Linked DNA regions of Homo sapiens: regions 1 and 2 are each reported to be linked to region 3. Evidence: microRNA targets listed by miRTarBase, many of them from high-throughput screens and not tested one by one. Region 3 holds a microRNA gene; each other region holds the end of a gene's coding sequence.

Evidence for each region. The annotated mature microRNA hsa-miR-548g-3p reads AAAACUGUAAUUACUUUUGUAC and lies in region 3 at 2,800-2,821, opposite strand. An mRNA with a match to its seed (bases 2 to 7 or 8) in the 3' UTR can be bound and repressed. Matches are read on the target gene's strand: a 7mer-m8 pairs with bases 2 to 8, a 7mer-A1 pairs with bases 2 to 7 and ends in A, and an 8mer does both.
Region 1: miRTarBase lists TIGIT as a target of hsa-miR-548g-3p. Seed matches in the 3' UTR shown: 7mer-m8 at 3,471-3,477 and 7mer-A1 at 2,513-2,519.
Region 2: the mRNA of TMSB4X is a reported target of hsa-miR-548g-3p. Seed matches in the 3' UTR shown: 7mer-A1 at 3,837-3,843.

The regions. Positions count from the first base shown.
Region 1 is chr3:114,307,143-114,312,213 of GRCh38, reverse strand. TIGIT (T cell immunoreceptor with Ig and ITIM domains) reads right to left here. Exons shown (of 4, transcript NM_173799.4): 4 at 1,926-4,319. The coding sequence ends at 4,083. It overlaps LOC124909411 (a long non-coding RNA gene), which reads right to left and starts at 135. Exons shown (of 2, transcript XR_007096008.1): 1 at 55-135. RefSeq lists enhancers at 3,109-3,288, 3,459-3,508, 4,262-4,361, 4,692-4,771, 4,892-4,961.
Region 2 is chrX:12,975,902-12,980,972 of GRCh38, reverse strand. TMSB4X (thymosin beta 4 X-linked) reads right to left here. Exons shown (of 3, transcript NM_021109.4): 2 at 4,612-4,727; 3 at 3,750-4,196. The coding sequence starts at 4,711. The coding sequence ends at 4,162. Among named protein-coding and RNA genes, the nearest start is that of TMSB4X, 3.3 kb to the right of the region's middle. RefSeq lists enhancers at 1,391-1,450, 3,051-3,170, 4,306-5,071 and a cis regulatory region at 2,405-2,697.
Region 3 is chr4:147,341,844-147,346,917 of GRCh38, forward strand. MIR548G (microRNA 548g) reads right to left here and starts at 2,874; the gene lies at 2,786-2,874.

The sequences.
Region 1 (5,071 bases), not on the chromosome of region 3:
CTTTCCTTATATCTCAGTTTTTAAGAACATTGATTGATAGATAATTTCAGATACCTCAGTTGCTCCAAGCCAGTTTTGTTGCCTCCATGAAAACTTCTGTGGCATCATTAGCATTACCTGGTGCACGTGTTCCTGGGGCAGAACACAATAATATTAACCCAGCATCTTGCAGCTCACAAAGCAGTCAGCCACGTTCCTGCCTCATCTTCTTAAGAATCTTAGAAAGATAGTAATATTACCATTTTATAAATGAGGAAATATTTATGAGTCTTTGATAGGTTAAGTGGCTTATCCAAAGTCGTGAAACTAATTGCAGAGCTCAGCACTTGGACCAAGTTTCTAAATTCCCTGTCCACTACACTCCATGATTACTTCTTTTTTGATCTCTGTGAAGTCCATCAGAGTTTTAGTCCCAGAGAAGGTGCTCTTCACAGCCTACATGAAGTCAGAATGAATATAGTCTATGGTAAGTCCTGTGATGACAGTCTATTTCTGCATAACCCCTATGAGTTGCAAATTTCTTGACAATTTTGGCCCTATTTACATGAACTGGACCACTTAGCTGCCTCAGATTTTTTTTTTTGAAAAAACCTGAAATAAATAAATGTACAGCCTGCTTTGACCTCATGGTTTGTCTCGATCAGAGGATGGATATAGGAGAGTAGAGGAGAACCTTCAAGTTTCTTCCTGGTGATAGCCATTTCAAATGCATAACAACTGGCGAGCCATCCAATGTCCTATAAACACAGCTGTCTGTGTTTTCTCTATATGCAAGGCAATTACTAGAATTGGAATGTCCAATATACTAGCCACCAGTCACATGTTGCTATTTACATTTAAATTTGTTAATTACAATGAAATAAAATTTAAAATTCAGTTTCTTTGTCACATTAGCCAAATTTCAAGTGCTCAACAGCCACATGCAGCTAATGGCTACCATACTGGATGGGACAGACATAGAGCATTTCCATAATTGCAGAAAGTTCTTTGGATAGCATTGTCCTACACTACCTTATGCAAATAAATTACCTCAAACATTGAGTATATCGTTGTGACTTCCAGAAAGCTCAGGCTCTTGCCACACAAAAAGCTCCCCTGTACCTCTTGACAGGTGTGACTTGGAGTAAGTGTGGGAAACTACCAGTTACAGCTATGAAGCAGCACCTGAAAGAATCAGGAGACTAAACAAAACTCACACCCCACAAATGACAGCCACACTGCCCATTGCCCCCTCTCTGTGGGGTGAGGTGTGCCCACCAGAATGCTGTCATTGGTGGACCTCACACCCAGCCTCCCTGCCTGTCCAGCTCAGCACTGATGGAATCTGAATGAACCTGAGTGTATGACGACTCATTTCTGGGGCTCACAGTGGTGAGAAATGAAAAGGGGAAAAGGCAGGAAATAAAATTGCATAGTGAGGTCCTGTTCACTCATGAAGACCATCTATCTCAAAGCTCCATGACTCAAAGTTTCTCACGTTTCTTTAGTATAATTCTCAGGATTATAGATCAGACTTGTACGCCCAGGCTTAGAATGTGGTCAGGGAATCAGTAATGTATTCCTCCTTGAATGCTCATTCATAGATTTGTCTATTCGCTCCTCCTGTTAGGGAATCCACGAGGGGACCCAGAAAAGCCTGGCATCGCTTCCTGTCAGCACTGAGTGTTCCCCTTCCTCAATCTTCTCTGTGATGCTTCCCTACATATTTCCCAAAAGACATCATAAGCAGGAAAATCTTCCTCAAACACTATTTTGAAAGAAAAAGAAATGGAGACCAATAGACATAGATAGACACCCTCCCTGGGTATCAGTTTGGCTTGGGTTTAGCTACTAGAGCAGCACAGTCACATAGAAATATGAGAGCCACATATGCAATTTTAGACTTTCCAGTAGCCACGTTAAAAAGATAAAAAGAAGCATGAAACTAATGTTAATATTTTATTTCACCCAATACATCCAAAATATTATCATTTTTGACACACAATATACCAAAACTACTGAAATAGTATTCTTATTATTCATATTAAATCTCCAGAATCTAGTGTGATTTTATGCTTATACCAATTATAACAGCACATCTTGATTTAAACTAACCCCATCTTAAGTGGTTGATGGCCACATGTGGAAAGTGGCTACGTGGTGGATAGCGCATGTCTCCAGGAATCCAACTATGAAATGGTCTTCTCTGGTTCTCAGAGGAGAATCTAGTTCAGTGAGTTCTATTTAAAAAAATTTTTTTCAAATTGAATCCCATTTCAGTAACCTGACCCATTTCTAACATCTATAGGCCCTTTTGTATTTTATCACCATCCCAATAGTGTTTATAAATGTTTCCCAATTACCATAATTATGTTAAATAACACCCAACTCTCAGTCCAACCTCTGCCGAATATACACCTCCTCCAAATCAAAACACTACTCCCTTTTCGTCATTACATTTTAGTTCACTTCCAATTTGTGAATTGTGTTCTATTTCCAACAGATTTGCACTAATTTTGCAAGAAAAATGCTGTAAACTGCCACAGCAAACAACAACATTTTTACGTTCATCTAATCTTTCTTCCAAAGGACTTGGAGCTCTGGACAGATTTCAGTTCATTCTTCCTATGTAACCCATTTGGTAGAAAAGTGAAAAAATAATAATAATAAAAATCCTAGGAGAAATAGTTGAATTGTCTTGTTGCTAAAACAATTGTCAACCCCAGTCTAAGTCTTAGGAAGCAGGACAATGCTTTATTTTTAACCATGCGCAAGACACAACCTTGCTTCACATTCTCTTTCAGTTCCTTGGCCCATGAAAGAAAATCAGTCACCAGTAAATCCAACCTCCCCGCTCATTCCTCTGAGAGAGATGGTGGAAGGATAAAAGTCTTCTAAGATCCAGCCTGAATGCAATTAAACAGAAATAAGCGGTTCAGTTACCCCAACCCCAGCACAAAGTCGTCAGGGAGTGAATAAAAGGGTTCGAAGAAGTTAGTTTGAAGGTGTTTATTTTTTAAACCCTCTATCACTCCCAGCCCCCCTTTTTCCCCTAGGAAGAGTCCCTATTTTAAAAATCCACATTTTCTTTTTAGTGGGAAACGTTCTTTTTTCAAAGGCTCAAGAGTGTATTGATGCAGAAAAGGTAGATCAAGGCCCAAATGCTACGACTTGGCTCCCTGTGTGGGCATGTGCGTTTCCTGGGGCTTCCCCAGCACACACGGCCGGAAGAGGCTACAGGCCTGTATCAGGCTGTCTAATGGATGAGTATGTCACAGCAAAAGGAAACTTGAAATGCCTGCCCAGAGAATAAAATCTGAAGTTTGCTGACTCCCTTGGTGCCAGGGCCTTCTTTGTGGGACTTTCAGCTCCAAGAATTTCCTACAAGTTCCCTAGACAAAACTCCTGCTCCTCCCAGACTAGCCTCAACATCCCCTTGGTGCTCCCAGGCCACTTCATCACAGATAAGCCTATGCCAACTACCTCACCCCAAACTGTCGTCTCTTCCTGAAGGCCTGTGTATGTCTCCTTCTCTCCTTACTATAATACCTTTTCATGACAACATTGTCTCCCCATTTAACTGTAAGTTCTTGAGGGCAGATACCAAGATTTAGTCACTCTCAAATCTCCCCATAGAGGCTGCTACCAGGACTTACTTATAACCTGCCTTTGAATGAGTGAAAGTTACTGAAAATGACGTGAAAAAATGAGATGAGGATGGCTCTGCAGTCATGCCATCCTCATCATCAACCACAAAACCTTGTAGCCCAAAATGCTGGCCATTATGAGGAATGTGTCTCTCAGAGACATAGGATCTGCTCAAACTGCCAGATTTAAAACCAGGTCAAGATATTTTTTAATTTTGCATTTATGATCAAGATCCACGTTACTCACCCTAGGCCTGCCATAATGCAAAATGGAATAGAACGAAAAGGCCAAGGAAATGAAGATGGAGAAGAGGATGACATTTATTCACTCAACTGAACACACACACACATACACACACACACACACACGCAGCACTGATGGAGAGTACAGCTGCTTATATATTCATCTATAATAGCAAAGACAAAAGTGTATCTTCCAGAAGATGCCTCTGGTTGCTAACCAGTCTCTGTGAAGAAGCTGCAGTTACCCAGGCTTCTGTAACTCAGGACATTGAAGTAGTCATGCAGCTCGGCACAGTCCTCTCCCCGCTGCTCTCCACAGAGCCCAGCAGGTGCAGCTTCTGCCTGGACACAGCTTCCTGGGGGTGAGGGAGCACTGGGGCTCCATTCCTCCTGTCCAGCTGATTTTCTCCTGAGGTCACCTTCCACAGAATGGATTCTGAGGGCTTTCTTCTAAAAACAAACAAACTACAAAGTGAGTATGTGGGGATGTTATTCAACAGTTAATCCCCAATATGACATCTCTCTCTTCCTTTCTTACACACATGCACACCAGCAAACTTATGTTCTTACCAACACCAATTCCTTAGCCCTTAATTTCTCAACCGCGTTACAGCTAGATTTAAATGCTAACTAGTCCATGGAAACTGCACTTACTACATATACCACGTGCCACACACCTTGTTACTTCCTGTTCACTAAGCTTAGTGAGGCAGCTTTCCATTCTCTATTTTCTTGTACTGTTTACTGCACTTGACTCTGTCGACCTCTTACTTTCTGAAATGTTCTCTTTCTCTGGATCCTTTGGCATCACTCTCTCCTGATTTTCTTCTCCTCCTTTGAACCCCCACCTTCGTCTTCAGCCAGGCCTGCCCCTTTTCTCTTTGCACATCAGCTCCCCAAACCGTGGGGTTCCCCAGGGTTCTGCTCTCTGCTTTCTCTCACGCTAAACATGCTCTCTGAGTGATTTCATGAGCATCTACTTTCTTACATCTACAACCACCATCTGTCCTCTGAAGATGCCCAAATCTCTATCTAAACTAGCCCAGGCTTCTGCCCTGAGCTCCAGATGCAGGTGTCCACCTGTCCACTGGGCATCATCACCTGATGACCCACGGCAAGCTCAGACTCAAATTGTCTCAAACGACACCATCACATTCCTGCCCCAACAAACCACTCCTGCCCCTATATTCACTGCCCTGGTT
Region 2 (5,071 bases), not on the chromosome of region 3:
GCCAGGCGCGTTGGCTCAAGCCTGTAATCCTAGCACTTTGGGAGGCCGAGGCGGGCGGATTGCCTGAGCTCAGGAGTTCGAGACCAGCCTAGGCAACATGGTGAAACCCCCGTCTCTGTTAAAATACAGAAAAAAAAAAAAAATTAGCCCAGCATGGCAGCATGCGTCTGTAGTCCCAGCTACTTGGGAGGCTGAGGCAGGAGAATTGCTTGAACCCAGGAGGTGGAGGTTGCAGTGAGCCGAGATTGTGCCACTGCACTCCAGCCTGGCGACAGAGTGAGACTCCATCTCAAAAAACAAAAACAAAAACAAAAAACTCAGCACAACCAAAGTCAGGCAAATTGCTGTTCAAAGCTCTTTAAATATATTTGTTAAAAACATATTTAAAATTGTGATGTCTAACATGACATTCACATGTTCAAAGGGACCCCCAAACCAGCATGTTAAATGAAGTCTCGACTGGGCGTGGTCGCTCACACCTGTAACCCCAGCTCTTTGGGAGGCTGAGGCAGTTGGATTGCTTGAGCTCGGGAGTTTGAGACGAGCCTGGGCAACATGGCGAAATAAAAAATAAAAAAAAAAAAATTAGCCAGGCATGGTGGCGCATGCCTGTGGTCCCAGCTACTCGGAAGGCTGAGGTGGGAGGATCCCTTGAGCCTGGGAGGCGGAGGTTGCAGTGAGCCGAGATTGCGCCACTGCCCTCCTGCCTGTGACAGAGAGAGACCCCATCTCAAAAAAAATAAAAATAAAAAAAAATGAAGTCTCCATCAAGTAAGGGGAGAAGTGTGCTTTGAGGCACAGAAGGAAGAGTGCGTGGTGTATGCACACAGTGAATGTGGCATGCACCAGCCCTGCCTACAAAAGTCTCAGAAGCCAGGGGCAAAGATGGTATTAGCACGACAATGTGATTACAGAAATAAAATGCTATGCAAGTGTCCAAGGAAAATATAAACTAGGTAAATACAGGTCTTAGAAACATATTTTCTTCCTAGCTTGCTTTGTTGTATATCTCTGCCTTACATTTGTAATTTCACCCCTTCTCATTACATGCAGAGAAAACCTAGTTGAGTCCCAAATTGGTGTGTTTGATTCTCTTAGATTGCAGTGTAAGCCACTCTTGAAAGTGTAATCGAAAAGAAAGGATTTGGGGAGTGTGGAGTGCGGAGGGTGGTTTTTTCTTATTTTCTTGCTAGGCTAGTGAAGGCTACTAGGGTAAATGAAGCATTGAGTGCTTTCAACGTTTTTAAACAACGTTTGAAGTTTCCATTCTTGAACAAAGAAAGACTCAAGATTTTTTATTTTTACTCTTTGTCTGTAATATTGTCTCCAAAACGCTCTGTTCTTTCTCGTTAGCACAAAATTGACCCCATATGTTTAGAAAAAAAAAATGCAAAAATATTTTCTTTTTGTCTCTTGAGGAATTAGATGCTTCTTTGGGGGAAAATAAACAGACCTTCCTTGTGCATTTAAAGGAGACAATACCTGATTCTGACTATAATGGGTCTCTTACACAGCCGAGAGACTCAAAGTTTGTGAAGATTTTGAACCCCACCTCCCCCCCATACACACTCAATCTTTGCATACACAGCCCAAAAGCTGTGTTGTTCTCCTGAAAGAATAAAATAGCTTTAAAATTCCAACCACTGGAAGGCTGCAAATGTGGCTGTGATGGTTGACAAATTTGCGAGATTTCAAAATGAAGCCAGCTCAATCTCAAAGGTCCTTTAGTGAGTCTCTTTTTATTTCCTTTATTTTTGCTTTATTTGTCTTGGTCAATTCAAAATTTGCAGAAATCCCAGACTAAACTGTGTGACCTTCGGGGCTTACTTAAGCTACCTTGGCCTGTTTTGTCCTGGGGGGAAGAGAAACAGTCATAGGGTCTCCTTCAATCCCAACGTTCTCTCATTCTAAGGGTAAACCTAATGTCCTCTTTGTATCTGTGAAAAATACTGTCGACTCCCAAGTCCTACATAGCAGGAACATATATCCCCACACTGACTCATAAATACCCCCAGCCCTTCTGGGAAGAATCTCTCTTGGGAAAAACAAAGAATCCCCCATCAAAATTAAAAAAATAAATTCTCTCCCATCCCCGTGTGCAGCAGTTAAGTGTACAGAGTGTGATATGGGCAGAAGCTTCTGAATTTCCCCATTCCACACGTCAAGCAGCCTGAATTCAATCATTACCATTTTACTTTTTTTTTTTTGTGCTATGTTTTAGCTTCGTCCCTCTAGGGGAGAAAGGTCTTTTAGTCCATGAATTATCCCTTTTCCTAAATGTTCCTTCTTCAACTGAGGAACACTGGAGCTGTGTTAATTTCTTAAAATCTTCTTTCGTCTTTGCATTGTTTGAAAAAGGCACACAGCAAAAGCCCACGTGGGAATGGTTTCTCTTTGTGCCTTGGGCATTTGCACTGTGCCCACACCCTTCCCTATAGGCAAGAAAACTACAGGGCTCCAGGCCCGTCTCCATCTTGAGATGGCTCCAGAACCTTTGTGCTTACTCCTCTCTTCACGGAGCTAAGCGGGCTGTGGCGCTTCAGGTTTTGTAGCAGCCTCTGCAGCAGCCTGTACACACCCCTTCCCTTGCAACGCAGAGCAAGGCTTCTAGCCTGATGGTCTACTTGATTGTCTAAACCACAGGTAAATGGTTTCCTGTGCATTTCTCAAAATAAGCGTTGAGCAAAGGAAATGAAAGCAACCAATTTAATAGTGATCAACAATTTTCCCTACCCCTCCGCTTCAAAAAGGGTATTTTCATAAATCGGTTTTGAGAGAAAAATGTTTAACTTCTTGGACATTTGCGTTGTAAAATTTAGCTTTGCAGAACATTCAGTGAACTAAGAGCCTTCTTAAATGCTGTTGTTTCGGCTTAATAAAACTGGTGCTTATTTAAAAAAAAAAGTCTCCACCCTTCCCTACAGAACCGAGGAATCCATTAAGGACCTTATAGAATGGCAAATCTTTTTTTAACTCTTAAAAAATTGACGTTGTTTCCGTCTTCCCGCACCAAGGACTTTGCTTTTACCCATCAGTGAAAATAACTACTTCCGATGATTGAGAAGTTATCAAGGACTCAAAGACCTAAATGTGAGTCAATTAATTCCCGCTGGATTTAAACTTAGTACAAATCTCACCTGTGTCCTGCTAGTGTCCTTTAAACCCAAAAGATCGAATAAGTATCTTTTAAATCCAAAGATTATTCAAATGAAGAGGACCCAATAAATTTAAAATCATGTTCACTAATCTTAACTGTATTCATTAAAGCAATTGTAAATATTGAACTCTGATTAGAAACCGGCCATTAGAAAATGAGTAAGCTCAAGTCCTAAATTCCTTCTTAACGCAGCTGCTAAAAATGTAATTTTTACTCATCTATGTTAATGCTAGCACTTGGTTAAATAACCAAGTTCAATTTGATACCCTGAAATAAGATACTGTGCTGTAAATTATCACCTTCATTTTCTTGAGCACGTGCAATGTCAGCTTATCAAAACCCGTAAGAACTGCAAAGATATTTTTATTAAAGCTCTCACACAATTCATACTAGGAATTCAATCAGCCTGAGAAAATGATCTCCTAGTATAGACAAGGTATTTTGCATACCTGGGTGAAACCCATTTCTATGCCATAAGGGAATTTATCCAGTCACCAGATGCTTGTCCCTCCCCAATGGACCAAGAGGTAGGCCTCTTTGCAAAGGTTTCATCCGCGATCCTTCCAGAAACCAAACAGACACACCAGCTAAGTTTTTAAACTTTTTATTTGCATATTAAAAAAATTGTGCATTCCAATAATTAAAATCATTTGAACAAAAAAAAAAATGGCACTCTGATTAAACTGCATTACAGCCTGCAGGACACCTTGGGCCAGCTTGGTTTTACTCTAGATTTCACTGTCGTCCCACCCCACTTCTTCCACCCCACTTCTTCCTTCACCAACATGCAAGTTCTTTCCTTCCCTGCCAGCCAGATAGATAGACAGATGGGAAAGGCAGGCGCGGCCTTCGTTGTCAGTAGTTCTTTGATGTGAAAGGGGCAGCACAGTCATTTAAACTTGATCCAACCTCTTTGCATCTTACAAAGTTAAACAGCTAAAAGAAGTAAAATAAGAAGGCAATGCTTGTGGAATGTACAGTGCATATTGGCGGCGCACGCCTCATTACGATTCGCCTGCTTGCTTCTCCTGTTCAATCGCTGTGACCAGAAAAAAAAAAAAAAAAAAGATGGAGGGAGATGATTAAAGGATTCAGTACAGACTAAAGGGCTTTCATTTAAAGCATCTTTTCAAATCATAAACATTCTACACGGTATTCCACAATGGAATAAAATATGTATATTGAATATACTAAATAGAAATACATTTTAATGGATAAATGTTTGTATATTAATATGGCATATTAAATATTCCATTACTAAATTACTAAAGCCCCGTGTTTGTTGGCTGCAAAACCATTTTTAATTAACCTTTGCAAGCCACATTCATCAACTGTCGGCTCTTCCCCCGCACTCCCCCCTCCCGAATTCTTCCCGCGGCCGCTCCCAGCCTCCCGCCCTCCCACCGGCCGCTCCCACCCAGCCTTTCTAAAGATGGGGGTGGGTCGGAGCTCACTTTCTTTGGAAGGCAGTGGATTTTTCTCTTGCGTCTCTGTCTTCTTCAGTTTCGACTTATCGAATTTCTCGATCTCAGCCATATCGGGTTTGTCAGACATGGTTGCGGAGGAAAAGCTGCAGGGAGCAAGCCAAGAGCGAGCGTGAGGAAGAGCCACCCGCCCCGCTGTCTCTGGGCTGGGAACTGCACTTCTGCCCTCCGACCCGCAGCCTGAAAAAAACCCTTCTCGCTCTCCTACTGCTGCCGTTCCGCGCTCACGAGCTTCCTCTTTCTACAGAAAAAGAGGCGACACCCCCCGCGCCCCTCCTCCCCATATTTCAAAACGCTGTGGACCAAAGAGGGCGGATGCCTCTCAAAGCCGAATCTTGCAGAATAAAGGAAATTGACCACTGCGAATTGTTAATTACAGCGTTTAAAATTAAAGGCTGGCTAGGACAAGGAAAGAAGAGGAAAGCCACTT
Region 3 (5,074 bases):
CCTCCCAGGACAACTCTGTTCCTCATTTTATATTTGTAGTTTTCAGTTATTTTTCTTATATAATCCTCCCTCAATTGTTTAAGATTTAGGGTCTTTAAAATATGTATTCATTTCTTCACCACACATTTGCAGAAGCATTCCTGCATTGCTTTTTTGTTTTGTTTTGTTTTTTAACAAATATAACCAAACACAAAGAGCAACAAAACACTTCAAGCTGGTTACCCAGTGACTATGCTTGAAATCCTTCAAAGGCTTCCTATGATACTTTGAATAAAATCCAGACTCCTTACTGTATTCTGCAGAACCCTCCATGATCCAGCAATTTCTTCCTCAATCCCAAATCATTCTGTTCTCCCTCTAACCCATATTCTGATCACACCAGCCTCCTTGCAGCACCTCTGCATTGCCAATCTCTTTCCTACCTCAAATCCTTTGGTCGTTGTTTCTGCTATTGCACCCTTCTTCCCCTTTTCACATTGCTGGCTCCATCCTCTTTGGGGGCTTCTGGCCCTACCTGATTACTCTAAATAAATAATCATGCTCTCTATCTCCTCACTCCCACTCGGGGTTCTCTATTATACCCCCATGTTCTACTTTTTTTTTTTCTTAGTAACTGTCCATCTCCACTGCAATCCTGCAAGCTCCATCAAGGCGGCAGTGGTGTTTGTTTTGTTCATCACTACAGAGGATCCAGCTCCTAGTCAGTGCCTGATGTGTAGTGCCCGCTCCATCAAACTGTGTGCAGGCCGGGCGCGGTGGCTCACGCCTGTAATCCCAGCACTTTGGGAGGCCGAGGCAGGGGGATCACAAGGTCAGGAGATCGAGACCATCCTAACTAACACGGTGAAACCCCGTCTCTACTTAAAAAAAACTAGAAAAATTAGCCGGGCGTGGTGGCGGGCGCCTGTAGTCCCAGCTACTAGAGACGCTGAGGCAGGAGAATGGCGTGAACCCGAGGGGTGGAGCTTGCGGTGAGCCGAATCGCGCCACTGCACTCCAACCTGGGCGACAGAGTGAGACTCCGTCTCAAAAAAAAAGAAAACAAACAAACAAACAAAAAACTGTGCAAAGAATGGTGAATGAGTCCTGCAATCAATTAATTTCCCAGTAATTGAACATAACTCTTTAAAGCACAGAAACTAATAAGAACATCAACAATAACAATTTCGGGGCCGGGCGCGGTGGCTCACGCCTGTAGTCCCAGCACTTTGGGAGGCCGAGGCGGGCGGATCACGAGGTCAGGAGATCGAGACCATCCCGGCTAAAACGGTGAAACCCCGTCTCTACTAAAAATACAAAAAATTAGCCGGGCGTAGTGGCGGGCGCCTGTGGTCCCAGCTACTTGGGAGGCTGAGGCAGGAGAATGGCGTGAACCCGGGAGGCGGAGCTTGCAGTGAGCCGAGATGGTGCCACTGCACTCCAGCCTGGGCGACAGAGCGAGACTCCGTCTCAAAAAAAAAAAAAAAAAAAAAAAAACAATTTCGGTGGAAATCTTCCCATGTCTTTTAAAATTGACAACTTGAATGTAATATAACATTTTCCTGGCAATTCTTTGCTTATTACAGGTTGGTGACTGTGCCCTGGGTGGTAGAGTTTGCCAGATAAGCCATCCCTGAATCAGTGAAGTGTGATTGAACAATTAAATGACTAAAATGGTATAGCCTCCATACCCATTTGCATTCTTTGCACTTCTAGTCTAAAAAGGGCAAGACAAATGCAATTGTGTTGTGGAGAAATATTTGGATTCTTTTGGAGAGAAAAGGAAAATCAAAGAAAAATATTATGCATGGTATGAATTGGGAGTTTATAATTCAGAAATTTACTAAAAATAATGACAAGAACCGAAAGTGAAAAAAGTAGCTTTATTTTTAGATATCTCTCACATGTGAGAGAATAACCTGATATTGGCCAATAACCAAATTAATTATTTGTTTCTCCATGAAGACTCCTTTCTGAATTAGAAGGAGAAAGAGGTGAATTGAAGAGCAGATTGAAAATGGAGATATAAAATCAATGACTCTTTTTTAAGGATGAGTCATCATGGCTTTTCTAGATGATTGATTGTGAAGTGGAAGAAATAGAACGAATTAAACTATAAGCATTTGAGCCCAGTAGTTCTCTGGGGCACTCTTCTCCACTATTTGAACTATCTTTATTTCATAAGCTAAGACTAAAAACATTGCCAAAGTGAACTGGTTCTCCAGAGTTTCTAGAGTGCATTATTATCATTCTCTAAAATGAAAATACATCTGATACTTCAAAAGACACATTGTTATGTTTTTTAATGTTTTGCTTATATTTCATCTCATTTTGAAAATGATTGAAGTAGCTTATAATAAATACACATAAACAATAAGCAAGTAAATAATTGCAATTGGAAACTAATTCTAAGTGAAAGACAATTATATCTAAGCTAATATCAAGAATGGACAATGACATTACATTTAACTCTGAGCTTTCTAGATGCCAAAATAAGGGCCAGTGATGAATTATGCATTGTTTATCTGAACAAAAGAATTATTTATTTAAGAGTTACACATCTTCTAAGACATATTTATGCATTTATTGCATGGATCCTTTTACAAATGCATTTAGACAACATAATAGACAACCACAAACAACTCCTGTCCAAATGTTTATAGGTTCACTAATGCATACCTACATATTAGTAAATAATTTATTTATGCACAAGTATGCTATGTGTGCATACATGTATATTTCTGAGTTACAGCATGTAATCTATATACACACATGTACATAACCATACATACAGATATACATATATGAAGTATTATGTTGGTACAAAAGTAATTACAGTTTTGCCATAGAACGTAATGCAAAAACTGCAATTACTTTTGCACTAATCTAATAACTCAGAGAAAGTGTTTCTCTAAAGGGGTAATGAAGTTGTGTAGATTGCTGGCAATGATGGCCCCAATTCTTTTCATCCCTGCGTGCTAACACTTGGTAATGTGATTTTGTCACTCCCTTGTCAAGTGGTAGAGTATAGTTCTCTTCCCCTTGCATCTGAGCTGTCTCTGTGGCCAGCTTTGGCCAATAGAAATGACTTTGTATGGCTTCCTAGCCTGGGCTTCAAGAGGCCTTGCAGCTTCTGCTCTCACACTCTAGTCCAGGCTAGCCCTCTTATGGATAAAAGCACATGCTAGCCCTCTTGAGGATAACAACCACCCTCAGAGAGAAGCCCAGCTGATGGTCAGCACCACCTGCCAGACAGTTGAAGAAAGCTTCTTTAGGCCATCTCACTCCAGTCGAGATACCAGATAACTACAGCTGCATGAGTGATCCCAGGAGAAGCCAGCAGAAGAACTGCCCAGCTGCAAACAACTCAAACTGGTAACCACCAGAATCATAAGCTAAATAAATTATTGTTTTAAGCCATTGAGCTTTAGGGTGGTTTTTATATAGCAACTGTTGATATAAGATTCAAGGTATAAAATTTCCTTATTTAATAACAGAAAAAAAGTGGAGTAATCTAGGGAACTATGGTTGCTCACATCACATTTCCCTAAGTTCTTTAAGGAGTTCTGAGAAAAGGGAGATGAAGAATTTACTTAGCTACATGTTTTTACCCCTTGGGTAGAATAAGTGTAAACTTACTTTTTTTTACAATACTTGCTCTTCTGACTTTTAAAAAGATAGATTTTAGTTAAAGGAAAGAATTCCTAGCAACAGCCCACATATTTTCTATTTCCTATTGCAGTCAATATGTTCCTAACTTTTTGGCCTGAATTTTCCAGGATAGTCCTGAGTTGTCATCATCAATCTATGCATTATTAGGCCTAATCTTCTGATTTGGAGTTGGAACAATATAGAAGCTATGGTTTGGCTGTGTCCCCACTCAAATCTCATCTTGAATTCCCACGTGTTGTGGAAGGGACCCAGTAGGAGGTCATTGAATCATGGGGGCAGGTCTTTCCTGTGCTGTTCTCAAGACAGTGAATAAGTCTCACAGATCTGATGGTTTTATAAGGGGGATTTTCTCTGCACAAGTTCTCTGTCTTTGCCTGCTGCCATTCATGCATGATGTGACTTGTTCCTCCTTGCCTTCCACCATGACTGTGAGGCATCCCCAGCCATGTGGAACTGTAAGTCCATTAAACCCTTTCTCCTATATAAATTACCCAGTCTCTGGTATGTATCAGCAGCATAAAAACTAACTAATACAGATGCTATATCTATATATTTTGAATACCAAAAGTATAATTGGCAAGTTAGGCATTTTCTTAAGGCATTTTCAAAGCCTGATCTGTATTCTCGCCAGATGGACAACACCCCCCAACTTTTCACAAAAGCATGTTATTCTTTTAATGCATGCAGATCAACAAAGCATGCACATTGAAGGACGTGCTGTCACTGGTATTGAAGATAAGACTCACGTGGACTGTGGCAAAAATAGAAATGGGAGACCAAAAAATATGTCTAATCTATTAGTCCAACCTAGTGATGATGGTGACTTGAACTAGAGTGTTGGCAATGGAACTGGGGAGAAGGGATGACTTCAAGGTTTTCTTTGAAATAAAAATGACAGGCCTCACAGAGAAAAGAAACGAGTAACCACTAATTCTGCTCTGAACAATTAAGTGGGTGGTAAAGGCACAAGGTGTGTGTGTGTGTGTGTGTGTGTGTGTGTGTGTGTGTGTGTGTGTGTAGGCAGGTTAAGTTTGAGATGCTTGTGAGACATCCAAGTATACATGTCAAGTATATAGTTAGATAGATGGGCCTGGAATGCAGATGAAAAATTAAAATGGGAATATTAAGTGTAGTGGGCAAAGGGGCTAGCAGAGGATAGTGAAGTTAAAGAAATCAAGTGTCAAATCAGTTAGAGCTTTATAGGATCCATAGTAAGAGCTTTGGATTAATTCCAGTGGCTTTGGAAACTATGGGAATTTTTTTAATAGGGATGTAAAAAATCTGAGTTACATTATAAAAATTACTTTGGCTGCAGTGAGAAGTAATGTGTGGAAAGCCAAGTTATTATAAACTAGACATGATGGTGGCCTGAGGTAGTATGTTAACAGTGAAGACAGTGAGCAGTGGCTGGGTTGGGGACATG